Linked DNA regions of Homo sapiens. The protein of the gene in region 2 interacts with the protein of the main gene of each other region in a pairwise test. Each region holds a gene or a part of one and is shown on either strand. Other genes may lie near its edges.

Region 1 (3,812 bases), on a different chromosome or scaffold from region 2:
AATTATACAATTCAATGGTTTGGGGCAAATTGTTACTATTTTTTTTATTTTTTGAGACAGAGTCTTACTCTATCACCCAGGCTGGAGTGCAGTAGCCTGATCTCGGCTCACTACAACCTCTGCCTCCTGGGTTTAAGTGATTCTTGTGCCTCAGCCTCCCAAGTAACTGGGATTAGAGGCATATGCCACAAGGCATGGCTAATTTTTGTATTTTTAGTAGAGATGAGGTCTCACCATGTTGGCCAGGCTGGTCTCGAACTCCTGACCTCAGGTGATCCACCCGCCTTGGCCTCCCAAAATGCTGGTATTACAGGCTAGTTTTTTAAAATTGTGGTTATATATATAACATAAAATTTACCATTCAACCATTTTTAAGTGTATGATTCAGTGGTACACAACCCATTATGGCTTAGTCTATTTTTAAGTATTCACACCAATGTCTGAATTTTTGAGAAGCATTTCTTCCTTCTTCTGTGTCCACTTCTAAGAGCTGTGCATCAGAGTGTTTTTAAAATTTAAAATATACATAGAAAGTTTGTAAGAAGTACTGATAGGAGTAAATCCTAACAAACTGTGGCTTAACATTTCTATTTCCAGATGATACAAAAGTAAATAAACTTACTAGATTTGTATTTGGTACAAAGCTGCAGAATCAGAAAGAATAGATTATGATCATTTTTTCTTATAAAATATCAAGAGATCTCAGGAAAACTGAGAAGTGGTAAGTACAAAGAAAATGAAGTTTAAAGTCAAGTCTTCCTAATCTGTAGATTAGGGAACGGAAAATTCTACAAAAATAGACTAAGAAAGACCAGCTGTCAGATCTTTCAAAAATGAGGACTTTTCATAAGGATCATCCATGTGTATTAAGTATACACTTAGAGTGATTTTTTTGGGGGGGTTGGGGGTAGAGATGGTATCTTGCTATGTTGCCCAGGATGGTCTTGAACTCCGGGGCTCAAGTGATCCTCCCCACTAGGTCTCCCACAGTGCTGGGATTACAGGCATGAGCCACCATGCCCAGCCTAGAGTGAATCCTGACTTTAAAACTGGTATTCCTTCTATAGCCAGTTCTTATCAATTACATTATAAAACTGATCTAGAAATAAGAATATTCTTTTAATTGGATCCAAGGATTTAGAACTCTCTGGATTTACTGAATTGCTCTTTAAAAAAGTAGTTCTATCTCACATATGTAAACTAAAACCTTTCACCTTGCAGATCTTCTAAGCAGCTGCCTAAAAAATACAAACCAGATAGATAGCAAAACTGCCCTTTTCTGTATTTCTTGGGCCAGCACTAATGTCACATTAACTAGGGTAGCACAGCTCAACAAAGTGGAACATACTCAGTTGTCTTAACTCACTGGCTTGTCTATACCTAACTGGATCATGCAGCTCTATCTTTAAGAAGGCTTTTCTATTTCTGATTTTAAAAGTAATATGTATTTGCCTTAAAAATTTTACAGAAATCACCAGGAATTCTATCACCCAACAATGATCTTAACAGTTTGGTTTTTCCATTTCCACTATTTTGTATGCTCATAAATAAACATACACTTTAAAAATAGGGATCATATTAAATATACAGCAGTCAGCCGGGCACGGTGCCTCATGCCTGTAATTCCAGCACTTTGGGAGAACGAGGTAGGCGGATCACTTGAGGTCAGGAGTTCAAGGCCAGCCTGGCCAATATGGCAAAACCCCTTCTCTACTAAAAATACAAAAATTAGCTAGGCGTGGTGGCGCATGCCTGTAGTCCCAGCTACTCAGGAGGCTGAGGCATGAGAATCGCTTGAACCCGGCAGGCAGAGGTTGCAGTGAGCTGAGATTGGGCCACTGCACTCCAGCTTGAGTGACAGAGCAAGACTCTGTCTCAATAAATAAATAAATAAATAAAGCAGTCTATCCTTTTTAAAAGATACCTGTTATATCATGCATTTTCCTGTGTTCTTAGTCTTTAAAGGCCCTTCTTTTAAGTGATCCATGTGGTACAAAAATGCATAGAATATTTTCTTCTATGTATACCCTATTAACTTCACTTGTAGGGTTAGATGAAATTTAAATTTCCAGATAGTAAGCCCCAAAATATTCTCCTAGTATTTTAAACTTACTCCTTCCAAGTCCTCCAGTATCAGCACGAACTTCAGTCACCCTTCTGGGAGTCAAAGGGGAGCCAGCAATGCAAATTTCATCTGCCCTTTCCAGGTTCTGAGGTGGCATGACCTATGAAGAATTGGTTACACAGAATGCCAGTATCCAAAAAAGCACTTTAATTACAAATACAATAGTAATCTAAGGCAGAAAAAGTATCTTAACAATTATTCCATCTAAATAAAATCAGCTGTCTTTCCCATTTTAATAATAAAGTTAAAAAAAAAACTTTTGGCAGTCAAAAAATTCAAAACCTTGTAATTGGATACTAAATATGAGTCAAACTTCATTACTGGTTTGGAGAGTTTGAATATCAACCACTCTAAAGCAGGAGTCCCCAACCCCTGGGCCATGGACCCTGTTAGGAACTGGGCAACATAGCAGGAGGTGAGCAGCAGGCAAGTGAGCATGCGAGCAAAGCTTCATCTGTATTTAAAGCTGCTCCCCATCGCTCACATTGCCGCCTGTGCTGGCCTCCTGTCAGATTAGTGGTGGCATTAGATTCTCACAGGAGTGTGAACCCTATTGTGAACTGCACACATAAGGGATCTAGGTTGCATGCTCCTTATGAGAATCTAATGCCTGCTGATCTGTCACTGTCTCCCACCGCCCCCAGATGGGACCATCTAGTTGCAGGAAAACAAGCTCAGGGCTCCCACTGACTCTACATTTTGGTGAGTTGTATAATTATTTCATTATATATTACCACGTAATAATAATAGAAATAAAGTGTGCAATAAATGTAAGGCAGTTGAATCATCCCAAAATCTCTCCAACCCCCAACCCTGTCCATGGAAAAATTGTCTTCCATGAAACTGGTCCTTGGTGCCAAAAAGGTTGGACCACTGCTCTATGGGAAAGAAACTTGGTAAGGAAATCAAGAAAGAACACTGAATTTTTACTCTGTCACCAAAATCTTAGGACAACCACAAATTATCTGACTCGTTTCCTCTTTGACATGGGGTGAAATGTGACAGGTCACCTACCTTACTTAAGGGTGTATGTCTGCTGCCTAAACCCTGAAGGCTAGGCAGTGAGCCAAGGCCATGGTGCCCAGCCAAGGAACAGGTGTCCCTGAGAACCCCAACATCCCAGAGAAGATCTGAGAAACTACCAAGGAAAACAGTCCCATCGTGCACACACATAGTAGGCAAAGAGCCAGAAAATTAGCTTAAAAGCAGCTTAGCGATGGGAGGTGGCGAGGATCTCTAGAGCTGTCCTGCTGCTACCTAGGAGTACCCTGTATATAAGTCTTTTATTTTTCCCCACCACCTCTGCCTCCTCCATATGTAAGTCTTAATAAACGTTATCTACTTACCAAGCTGGACTTGTCTGAGTCATTCTTTGGTCTCTTGGCACCTTCCCAATTTGTGGGTAGAGAGGGACGTTACAGTCCAAGATTTTTCTCATAACAAGGTGTAATTATAACATATTAAACCTAATTGCCACCCTCCCATCCCCAAAAGGATTATTAATAGATTAGATATTGATGTATTTTTCTCATAAAAAGATGTTATTTTCACAAACCTCTTCACATGTAGGAACTCTGTTTTCATTGTCTCTAATTTTTTCCCAGAGTGGAGACTCTGGTTTCCATGCCAAATGATCTAAGATCTGTTCTTCAATCTGATTAAGGTGTTTTACCACCTCTCTACAAAG
Region 2 (3,812 bases):
CAGAGCCCGTGCCGATCCGCGCTCCGCTCCCGAGGACTTCCAGGGAGGGGCCTGTGCTGGCAGCAGAGCCAGTCGGTGGCCCTCCCCCGACCCCCCGCTCCCCGAATGTGGCCCTCCCTGGGGGCTTCGGCCACACCTGGCACGTGGTCAGTTTTCATCTCCCTTTCTCCACAAAAGGGACTCGAACTAAACCACCCGACGCTGGTAAAGCCCCATCTGCCCCAGGGACCCCTCCCGCTGTGTTTGGGGACTGAATCCCAGCACCTAGGAAGAGGCGCTCATTGGCCCCGAGGCCCCGGACCCATCCTTGGGCACTGCCGGGCCCTGGGGAGAGAGGTGTGGCCATTGTCTGCGGGCACTGCCTCTGCAGCCGCCCCTGGGGGTGGGTCAGTGCCCACCCTGTGTTGCCTCAGGCGCCAAGGTGGGGTTCACTGGGATATGTCCCCCTCCCCTGGTGCACCAAGAGAGCCAGTCCCCTACAGGAGCCAGACCCACGGCTCAGAGCGGGTTCTGTCCCCATTCGGGAAAGGCCGCCGTGTGGTCATCCTGACGCCAACGTCCGCGCAGTCCAGAGCCACGGGGGCTCCGCTCCACCGCCTGGGATAGGACATGTGCTTAATCTGGTGATCGGCGCAGCTCCCCCCAAAGCACCCCCGGCACCAGCGTGTGACTCTGCGGCCCCTCGTGAAGGGGGTGAAACCAGCCCATGCCGCCGGATCCCTCACCCACACCAGCAAATGAGGATCGGAGCAAAGATAAAAATTACATCTGAAAAAGGATACAAAAATAAGAAAACCAGCTTGCTCGCTGTAAAAAATAGAATCTTCTGTTTCTTCAAAAAACAACAATCTCAACGACACCCAAGGGACTCAGGACAAGCTGAGGGAGCTGCGGGATCCGCCCCAGCAGACACGCAGGCCCGCGGGGTGGCCACCTCCTTCCAGGAGGCCCAAGCCGCCTTTCCCTCCCTTCAGCCCAGCGCAGGCGGCCCCAGCAGACCAGGCCTGCGGGCGCTCCCTCCACAAATGCCACCTTGTTCCCGGGAAGCCCAGGCTTCCCTGGGGCAGGGCGGGGGCTGGGGGGGTCTGTGCCCGGACCGGCACCGGCTAGGCACGCGGGGGAGGGAACGCTGTCGCATGTCGGCTGCAGGCAGTGCAGGCCCAGGCCTCTGGGCTCGGCTCACGGTTGCTCCCTAAAGCACAGGGGCTGCCAGAGCCTCTCGGATGGCCCAAAGGCGGCTGCAGCCTGGGCCACCATGGTCCCGGAACACTCCTCCCCACTTCCTCCCCCAACCAACCCAGGCAACCGCAGCCTGGGGGCCATGTGCCAGACATGCCACAGTGCTCGGAGCACCTCCAACAGCCTTCGCGGATGTTCTCCTGGGCCTTCCAAAGAGCAAAGTGTGAGAAAGATGTGCTTTTACCTGCACCATCCTGTGCCCTTACTGGTCCCCAGCTACAGACCTCCTGGCCGGCGTGTCAGGCCGAGAGCAGCAGGCAGGCCCTTACAGACGCGGTGCTGAGCGCCCTGGAGGCCAGCAAGGAAGGTGCCACCAAAGACACTGAGGGCAGGCGAGGGGTGGGCCCTTCTCACCCTCTCTGTTCCCGTGGAGCGAGTGTGGAGCGCAGGCAGGGTCACTGCGCCCGGCCCCAGCCCGGCACCAAGGGCAAATGCCACAGGAGGGTCTCATGTAAGAGGAAGGAGGGCCGCCAGGCCCGTTTCTCGGTGGTTGGTGAAAGGCCCCCATGTCCCTCCTTGACGACATCTTTCTGTCCCCAGGAGGAAGGGCCCCGCACTCTTCAGCTATGGCTTTGGTGGTGGACGAGCTTCTGGCCTCTGGAGAGCGGGACACAAGGTTGCGAGAACCTCTTGGGGTGGCTGGAGAGGTTTCTCTGTCCAGGCTGGAACGGAGAAGGGCAGGGCCAGGGGTCCTGTGTGTCTTCTCCACGGGCCCCCGAGGGCCTCTGCCCCCTCCCCCAGTCTGCGGGTGGCCCTCAGAGGCACCTGACGTGCCCTGTGGGAGAGGGGCACCCCCGTCCCTGTGAGCCCTGGCCCCTTCTTGGTCGATAAAACGCAGAGGTCAACACAATAGAACCACAGGTCCAGGAGAATTATTGCAAAAGCTCATGAGGATGTCCAATTGTTTCCACTACCAAATCGTAAAAAAAAAAAAAGAAAAAGAAAAAGAAAAAGAAAATTCCAGCAACGTCCTGGGCAAGTCAATACTAGCTGTCCCCGCCAGACGCTGCCGCTGAGGTGATCTTGATGTACTGGCTGAGAATGGTCTCGAAGGCCTCATCCCTGTGCACCATGGCACCAAACACGAGCGGCTGGCAGGGAAGAAATGCCACCAGTGAGCATGGCACAGCCAGGCTGGCGCCAGGACCAGGACCGAGACGAAGTCCAACACCAGCCCCAGGCCAGCACGCTAGTCACGTGGGTCTGGGTGCAAAAGACAGGTGTCTCCCCACCACCCGGAGCCAGGCTCCAGCCTTCAGGGGAACAGAGCCAAGAGGCAGAGGGGAGCCAGGCTTTAGCCCCGTGCCTCCCTCCTCCCAAGTCACTGAGTCAGGGGACCCCTGTGCCCAACATCCCTGTCTGTCCGGTGACTCGATGGCCCCAGCAAGATTTCCAACCCAACCTGGACGCAGCCCCAGGCTCTAGCTGCTGCGAGGGAGGGGGCGGCTTTGTGACCCTGCTGCCCAAACTAAAACTCTGGCTGTCTGCCCCACGCTGGTCCCAGGGTTGCTCAGAGTCAGGCCCCTGGGCCCACACCAACCCCTTGGCGGCCCCCCGCCCGGCACCTACTTTCTGGGTGGATGGCGTCGACACGGCAATCCCCATGCCTGAGCCTGGGAGGACAGACAGGACCTTGTACTGAAAGGCAAAGCGTGGCCGTCACCACAGGTCTCTCCTGGGGACAGGGAGGCACAGCCCTCCACAGGCCCAGGGCATCCTCCTCCACTGGGCACACAGGCAGCAGGGCCCACGGGCACCTGGGACTTCCAAACAACAGAAGGTAAGGGCCTGTGGACACCTCCTCACTTTGTGGCCGAGACACCAGACCTGTAAAGGGTCTGTCCCACCCCAGCCCAGACCGTCGGCCAGCTGGCCTGAGGAAGGTCAGAGACAAGCCGGCCTGAGGAGGCTGACGGTAGGCACTCAGCCCCAGAACTCGCTCTCAGGGCCTGGCACCAGGAGGGCCATCTGTCAGCACCGCCAATCCCAAGAGGCAGGCGGAAAGGACCCCAGCCCTGAACTCACCCCTTCTGGTCACCTGACTGCACGCTTTTTTCCAGAGCCGGGTGGGAGAGATGACCCACAACTGCCGTGGGGCCGGGAGTGCCCGCCGTGCCAATGCGGACATGCCCAGGACGCTCGGAGCTGGGAGGGAGCTGGGGGCCCTGACCACTCGGGCCAAGTGTGCCTGCCAGTGCCTCACTGAGCCTTCCCTGCCCCAGAAAACAAGGGACCACAGGCACTTGTGGCCACGCCCACCTGCTCATTCCATGCTACGGTAAAATGCTGAGAAAATGCCCAGAGCGGGCGCGACCATCTGAGCTCCCACCTGAAAACCTGCATCCGAGGCAGGGGCTCAGGGCCCCTGTGCTTTTCTTTATGGGGAGGGTCCCAGATACGAGGGGAACACAGCAGCCAGAGTGGGGCTTGGGTCCTGACCTCCTGGGCTCCAACCCAGCCCCTCCACTTTGAGACACACGGTCCAGGCAAGTGGACCCCAGGGCAGGGGCAGACCCACAGGGACATGGGGACTCAAGTCAAGGAAACGGACCATGGCCGGCCAGCGTGGCCGC

The links.
Region 1: the proteins of GRAMD4 (region 2) and RBL2 interact in a two-hybrid assay, tested with the Homo sapiens proteins (one study listed by BioGRID).

The regions. Positions count from the first base shown.
Region 1 is NC_000016.10:53,465,471-53,469,282, reverse strand, and holds part of RBL2 (retinoblastoma-like protein 2), read right to left. Parts: coding exon 3,681-3,812; intron 2,226-3,680; coding exon 2,114-2,225; intron 1-2,113. UniProt on the Homo sapiens protein: Key regulator of entry into cell division. Directly involved in heterochromatin formation by maintaining overall chromatin structure and, in particular, that of constitutive heterochromatin by stabilizing histone methylation.
Region 2 is NC_000022.11:46,675,665-46,679,476, reverse strand, and holds part of GRAMD4 (GRAM domain-containing protein 4), read right to left. Parts: intron 2,878-3,812; coding exon 2,809-2,877; intron 2,331-2,808; coding exon 2,226-2,330; 3' UTR 1,902-2,225; coding exon of another isoform or gene 1,800-1,901; 3' UTR 1-1,799. UniProt on the Homo sapiens protein: Plays a role as a mediator of E2F1-induced apoptosis in the absence of p53/TP53. Plays a role as a mediator of E2F1-induced apoptosis in the absence of p53/TP53. Inhibits TLR9 response to nucelic acids and regulates TLR9-mediated innate immune response.